Homo sapiens: one gene and its partner. The protein of the gene in region 2 interacts with the protein of the main gene of each other region in a pairwise test. Each region holds a gene or a part of one and is shown on either strand. Other genes may lie near its edges.

Region 1 (3,749 bases), on a different chromosome or scaffold from region 2:
TGGTTTCCTTATCTGAAAAGAGGAGACATATTTTTCTTACCAACCACATAGGATTGTAATAGCATAAAATTAGAAACTGAAATGAGGACACTTTTGAAAGGTTGAAAATGTCATACAAATGGGAGGTATTATAATTATTCTAAGAATAAGGTAAACTCTGATGGCTCTAGTTCTTGCAGTGTTTCTTAGCACACCTATGATTTTTAATAACAGTTGCAGATACTTACTAGAAGTTGAAATACTAAAGGTTACAACTTCAGTGCTTCCGTGGAAAAATAATTCCCATATTAGCAAACCCATTTAAACTGGTGTGCTTTGAAATGGTTATTAATCTCTTCTTTAAGGAATCTGGATCCCAGAGTCTCCCAGGCTCCCCAATCTTTCTTCCCTGACATGACAGCAATAAAGCAGGGCTGAGGGAGGATGTTGATGTTCCCATTGGGGTAGAGGAGTGTGATAAAGACGCATTGTTCAGAAACAGAGACAAACTTCGGAGATTCGTCTGCAAGTTAATTAGGTCGTTGCGAATAAATAAGATGCTTTCAATACAGAGAGAAAGGATGAGGCGGGGCAACAAGCACAAGCATTTTGAGACCCACAGGATTGGGAAATGATGCAGGAACAACTGACCTGGCCATTTTTCTTTCTTTCTTTCTTTTCTTGGAAGCACATATGTTTATTGGTTTTTTAATCTGTGAACCAATAGGTCATTTATAAATGGATGTGCAAATCTGAAATCAAAATATCTGCAGTCAATTCAATTAGATAATTTTTGAAATCTATTTATTTTTAATATACTTTAAGTTCTAGGGTACATGTGCACAACGTGCAGATTTGTTACCTATGTATAGATATGCCATGTTGGTGTGCTGCACACATTAACTCGTCATTTACATTAAGTATATCTCCTAATGCTATCCCTCCCCCCTCCCCCCACCCCACGACAGGCCCCGGTGTGTGGTGTTCCCCACCCTGTGTCCAAGTGTTCTCATTGTTCAATTCCCACCTATGAGTGAGAACATGCGGTGTTTGGTTTTCTGTCCTTGCGATAGTTTGCTCAGAATGACGGTTTCCAGCTTCATCCGTGTCCCTACAAAGGACATGAACTCATCCTTTTTTATGGCTGCATAGTATTCCATGGTATATATGTGCCACATTTTCTTAATCCAGTCTATCATTGATGGACATTTGCATTGGTTCCAAGTCTTTGGTATTCTGAATAGTGCCACAATAAACATACATGTGCATGTGTCTTTATAGCAGCATGATTTATAATCCTTTGGGTATATACCCAGTAATGGGATGGCTGATGACCTGGCCATTTTTCTATTTACATAGTGCTTGCCCGCCACTGAGGTGCTTCTGTGACACCTGAGAGAGATAGAAATACGTTCCTCGTTGCTATGTCCTCCAGAGGACTCTGGAATGACCAATTATTACTAATATTTTAAGTGTTTTTTTAGGAGATTTTCTGCAGCACTCTGAGTGTCTCTTCCCAAACACTTCGGTTACTGTTTATTCACCTGCTGAGATCTGGTCTCTTATTCACTCTCATTGCCTTAAGAAATGGTACAGAAATGTATTCATTAACATTTCAGATTTGTATATGCGGTAGCGAGAAATAATTCCCTTTCTTGTGTGTCGTGATTTGCCTTTCTTGTCAGCCTAAGCTCAGGAAGGTGTCTGTGAGAACTTCGCTCAGCCCAAGATCCCTTTCCCTTCCCGTCACATCTGTTAGCGCACAAGATTTCTTCGTCTGTCTCCAAAGGTTTCTGAAGCCCCACCCTTTGCCCACGCACGGTGCCAAGGAGACTGTGCCCTGCCTTGACAACAGTTGCTAAGGGGCGGAGACTTCGGCTCGGTTCCCGAGACGGAATACCCAGGAGTCGAGTACTTGGGCGCATGCGGCAACCGTATCTCAGTTCTCGCGAGGTTTCGTCTTCCCGGAAGCGTTGGAGGACATTCCCTGTTGACTGCGTCGCGATGTGTGGCGACTGTGTGGAGAAGGAATATCCCAACCGGGTGAGCGACTGGGCGCTCCCTTGGCCCGCGGGCGGCCCCCGAGGTGTCTCATATCCAAGGCTGGCCTTCCCAGAGAGGCCGTACGTGGGGCGGACTCGGCCGCACTGCCGGTCCCGGTGACCCAGTAGCGGTATTTAGGCACACCAGGGATGGCCTGTGGCGGTCTGCACCTCTGGTACCCGCCCTGGCGGCTGACCTCAGTTGTAGTGGCCGTTCTCTTGAGCTCCAAGGAGCAACAGAGGAACCCCACCACCACCACAACCCCCGTCGACAACCGAGGGACTCCCCCACCCCCACTTCCGGTCTCATCCTCAAGCTCGATTTGATGAAGTACAATTTTCTTACCGAATTCTAGCGCTGGAGGGGACCTCTGTGGTCATCTGTTCTAACACTTTTGCAGATGAAGAAACCGATGCCCAGAGAGGGGAAATCACTTGCCCAAGTTCACATTCTAGTTGCATGGATGAGAGCCAGGACTAGAATTTAGGTTTCCTGCCTGTTACCGCCTTCTGAATCTCAGTTACTTTCAGGTTCAGGAGTTTGCAAAGCTTGTCTATTCTCATTCATTCAAGGCATCCTTGTTGAACATTTATATATGTGTAGTTAGATTACTTTGCTAGGCCAGAAAGGGATTATTTCTCCTCTCTTTGAGACAGGGTGCTGCTGTTGCCCAGGCTGGTCTCAAATTCCTGGGATCAAGTGATCCTCCCGCCTTGGCCTCCGAAAGTGCTGGGATTACTGGCATGAGCCACCACGTCCAGCTGGATTATTTGTTTCAGAGAAGAAATTAAAAGGCACCTTTGGTGCTGCCTAACAGCTTACAGTTTTGGGGAGTATGTGACTAACAAAAAATGAGTAGCTCAGTTCAGAAATGCTATTCAAGTTTAGGGAAAGGGGAGGGCAATAGGGGATAGTGCTGTTCTCCCCTGAGAAAAGGTGGACATCATCTAAGACTTGAAGGACAGTTGTAATTAGGGTAGAAAAGAAGGTGAGGAGCTGGAGGATGGGGGAAAATTACAGAAATGGAATTTGTGCATTGGTTGGGAAGGAGGGAGAAAGTCTCTGTAGTTCCTTATGTCTTAGTATCTTATGGGTAATACTTAGGCTTTTGAGTAGCATGTATAACAGTATGAATTCTCCTGTAGTACAACTACTTTGAAAAAGCGGGTGAGCCTTATAAAATACAGACATGACCCAGTGATTCCCATTCTAGAAAAATGCATGTGTATATGCTTCTGAAGACTTTTATAAATAAGTGTTCATAACAGCATTATTTTTGTAGTAGATTGGAAAAGTAACTGATACATTCATTAGAATGGAACACCATTAATGAATGAGGAATGGAAGTGAATGAATTAGAGCAGTAGTTCTCTACCAGGAGTGATTTTTGGCTCTTAGGAGACATTTGGCAATATCCAGAGACATTTTTTGGGTGTCAAAAGGGGAAGTACTACTGACTGCTAATGGGTGATGCAAGGGATGCCGCTAAACATCCAGCAATACATGGGACAGCCACCACAACAAAGTATCACTCCCAATGTCAATAGTGTGGAGGTAGAGAAACCCTGAATTATAGCCGTGAAACCAAACTAGAATTACACAGCAGCCTGAAAAGTCTTACAAATAGTGTTGATGAAAGAACACATAAAGTATAATTCAAAAAGAGGCAAACCAAAATATATTATTCAAGGATGTACCTGGGTGGTAAAACTGTAAGGAACGTATAC
Region 2 (3,749 bases):
GCCATTGTACTCTGTCTCAAAAAAAAAAAAAAAAAAATCACTAGATCAATAAATTTGAAAAGGAGACTTTATTTCTCTTTTATAAAGGGTTACAACCTGCAGGCTGGCCATCCCACTGGCTAGGAAGCAGAGCCTCCAGCCAAAGCCTTAACAGGCACTTTGAGGGAGGGAGGAGTGAGATAGGAATTTTAGTTGAATGGATTGGTCAACAGGTTACTGGAGGAGCTATGAATATTTACGGAGGGGGTCCTGACATATGCATATCGAACAAACATGCATGTTATATACCATCCATGTTCACCTTGGGGTGGAGACTTAATATTTAAATATATCGCAGTTAGGCCCCATACGTCAAAAAGACAAAAGCACTCAAGTGCGCAGCCTCTGTAAGCTGGCTAGAACCAGTCCATGGCCGATGGTCTTATCAGGAGAAAGTTACTGAGATCAGTCTCTTGTCCCACCAAAGCTATAATTATGGCTTGTGGAACAGGGGCGTAGGGGTCAGCATCTGGCAGTGGGTGAGCTGCAAATTTTTTTCTATTATTTATATTACCACATTATACAAATTGTTTTAATATTGGTTATCTCAAGTCCTGTACTTGTTTAGCTGCTACAGAAAAAGAAAATCCTCGCGGCAGTTAGAGCATAGTCTCTTCTTTAAGTGCAGAGGTGCAAGACTTAACCCTTGCCTGGCATGGCCTTAGATCCTATTTATAATTAGGTATCTTATTGACACAAACAATGCATTCTGTCAGTCTTGTGATCTCTGCTTTGACGTTAATGCTGGTCATTTGTTGTGTCTAAGCTGCAAAAGGGCGTGGGCATAACATGGCATGTTTGACGTCCCTTCCCATCATAGCTGGAAACCCTGTTTTTAAGGTTCCCTGGGGTCCCCTTGGCCAAAAGGGGGTCCATTTAGTTGGTTGGGGGGTGTAGGATTTTATTTTTAGTTTACAGTTGTTAGCCCTGATGTGGACCATTTCCATCCTATCTAGGTTTACCAAGATTCAAAACACGAAGCTGACCATGAAGCGGGACGGCATTGGGTCAGTGCGGTACCAGGTCTTGGAGGTGTCTCGGCAACCACTCTTCACCAATATCACAGTGGACATTGGGCGGCCTCCGTCGTGGCCCCCTCGGGGCTGACACTAATGGACAGAGGCTCTCGGTGCCGAAGATTGCCTGCCAGAGGACTGACCACAGCCTGGCTGGCAGCTGCTCTGTGGAGGACCTCCAGGACTGAGACTGGGCTCTGTTTTCCAAGGGTCTTCACTAGGCCCCCTAGCTACACCTGGAAGTTTCAGAACCCACTTTGGGGGGCCTCCTGCCTGGGCAGGCTCTTCAAGTGTGGCCCTCTTTGGAGTCAACCCTCCTTCCCGACCCCCTCCCCCTAGCCCAGCCCCAGTCACTGTCAGGGTCGGGCCAGCCCCTGCACTGCCTCGCAGAGTGGCCTGGGCTAGGTCACTCCACCTCTCTGTGCCTCAGTTTCCCCCCCTTGAGTCCCCTAGGGCCTGGAAGGGTGGGAGGTATGTCTAGGGGGCAGTGTCTCTTCCAGGGGGAATTCTCAGCTCTTGGGAACCCCCTTGCTCCCAGGGGAGGGGAAACCTTTTTCATTCAACATTGTAGGGGGCAAGCTTTGGTGCGCCCCCTGCTGAGGAGCAGCCCCAGGAGGGGACCAGAGGGGATGCTGTGTCGCTGCCTGGGATCTTGGGGTTGGCCTTTGCATGGGAGGCAGGTGGGGCTTGGATCAGTAAGTCTGGTTCCCGCCTCCCTGTCTGAGAGAGGAGGCAGGAGCCCCAGGGCCGGCTTGTGTTTGTACATTGCACAGAAACTTGTGTGGGTGCTTTAGTAAAAAACGTGAATGGAGCAGCTCCCTTGTCTGTTTGGGGGTGGGGGTCGGGTCCCTGAACGTGGTTACCCTGAGTGTGTTGTGGTGGAAGGGCACTTGGGGAACCTGGCCCAACAAGTAAACCTGACCCGGGCCATCCTGGTTCTCCAAGCGCTGCCACTCCCTAGGCTTTCACTGGCCTTAAGGGGAAGTTTGTCCTTGCACTGCTTCCGGGACAGTGGAGGCGACGAAGTAATAAACCCGTGGACCCAGATTTCTCAGGTCTTAACACGTTCCCTGAGGCCTAAAGGTGCCCAGGGCCGAGCCCAAAGTGCTTGGGTCAGGGCTCGGTGGAGCGCCGAGGTGAGTCTGAACTCCCAGCCGGCACGCGCCGCCCGCCGGACCAAACACGGGAGGGGGCGGGGCCCTAGAGTCGCGGCGTGGTTTCCCGGGTGATGGCCACGCGGAAGAGGTGGGGCTAGGGCCCTGGTTCCCACTGCCTGGTTTCTGGGCCCCCGGCATCCGAGTCGGCCAAAAGCCGGGCAGAAGAGAGCGCCAAGGACTGGCAGTTCCGGAACGGGCAATCCCAGCCGAGGGGACCAGCGGCAGAGCACGGGTGGGGCTTGGGAGAGGGCGGGGCCCATAGAGGGGCGGGGTTTGGTGAGCGTTGCCGGCGGGCCCGCGGTACCTCCCGCACTCTGACCTGCGGCCCGTAGGTCCGAGCCGGGGACGGCGGCGTCGGTGGGTCATGCTCCGGCACTCCCCCTCGCTGTGGGAGCTGGTGGAGGAGCACGTTCCGCTCCGGGAGCGACGCGAAGTGAAGAGGATTCTGGGGGAGGCGGCGGTGGACCTGAGCCTGGAGCTGCGGGCGGAGGTGGGGAGAGGGAAGGTGGGCCACGCCCCTGGCCTGCCCCACGACTCGGGTGATTTCCCACCTCTGCGGGTCCCTGGCCCTGCCGGGTAACTCCCGAGATCCTATCCTGGTCTCCCCTTTGACTCCGCCCTCTCCCTCACTCCCCCAGCCCCCACCATTCCGGACACTCCCCTCCCCAGTCGCAAGGTATCCCAGCTCTCCTTGCAGGTGGCGATGTTACGGGCACTGCTCCAAGAGGCTCGATCCTCTCAAGCCCCCAGCTCCCGCCCCATCTCTGACCCCTCTTCTCTTCTGGCACCACCGCCTCTCCTAAAGGACCTCTTGCGCCAGGAGCTCCGGCAGTTGCTCCAGGGTCTCCGCCACAAAGCCATCTGTGAGGGCAGGTGGGAGCCTCAGGCCTGGGCCCTTTCCCTAGATACCAGGTGGGCTAGCGCTGCCCCTAACAAGGAGCCAGGGTTGCCTTTTCTGTGGTTTCCAGAAAGGAGCCTCTCAGCTTCCTTCCTGTGCACCTTCTGCAGGGACCAGGCCCAAGCTTGGGTCCAGTATAGCCCCAGGGTCCTGCACTTTGCCTTGGAGGAGCCCAGGTGTGATTTGCCAGAACAGGAGATATTCCAGATGAGAGGTGGTGGGCCCAGGTAAGGTGATGGTAGGAGAGAGGGATCTGTCCCTGCTTGGCAGAGGGCCCTAGCCCACTGGTGGGTTGCACCTGGCTCCATGCAGGAGATTCCAGTCACGGGCTGGGCACTTCCACCGCCACTTGTGATAGAGATTATCAGCCCATGAGGGCTACTGAAACCCAGAGGAAACACCTGCCTAGCCTGGGGACAGGCAAAGCTTCCTGGAGAAAGTGGTTTGATCTGCGTGTTGTAGTATGAGGAGCAGTTTTCAGGGAGATGAAAGAGAAGAGCTTTGTAGGAAGAGGGAAGAAAGGAAGCCATGTCCAGCAGGCGGTTGTTCCTCTGGCCTAGAGAACAGGAGTGAGGGCTGGGCTAGGGAGGCAGGGAGAGCTGAAGAGGATGGTCACAAATGGTATTTACAGCTGGGACT

The links. The genes of interacting proteins can lie anywhere in the genome.
Region 1: the proteins of CCDC24 (region 2) and CHURC1-FNTB interact in binary tests that used the Homo sapiens proteins (3 or more experiments, as listed by UniProt).

Annotation. Positions count from the first base shown.
Region 1 is NC_000014.9:64,912,513-64,916,261, forward strand, and holds the start of CHURC1-FNTB (CHURC1-FNTB protein), read left to right. Parts: upstream 1-1,848; 5' UTR 1,849-1,902; coding exon 1,903-2,022; intron 2,023-3,749. Other genes in the region: CHURC1 (protein Churchill), read left to right, coding at 1,984-2,022. UniProt on the Homo sapiens protein: Essential subunit of the farnesyltransferase complex. Catalyzes the transfer of a farnesyl moiety from farnesyl diphosphate to a cysteine at the fourth position from the C-terminus of several proteins having the C-terminal sequence Cys-aliphatic-aliphatic-X.
Region 2 is NC_000001.11:43,989,303-43,993,051, forward strand, and holds the start of CCDC24 (coiled-coil domain-containing protein 24), read left to right. Parts: upstream 1-2,296; 5' UTR 2,297-2,444; intron 2,445-2,523; exon of another isoform or gene 2,524-2,544; 5' UTR 2,545-2,576; coding exon 2,577-2,702; intron 2,703-2,909; coding exon 2,910-3,085; coding exon of another isoform or gene 3,086-3,124; intron 3,125-3,220; coding exon 3,221-3,337; intron 3,338-3,749. Other genes in the region: B4GALT2 (beta-1,4-galactosyltransferase 2), read left to right, coding at 996-1,146.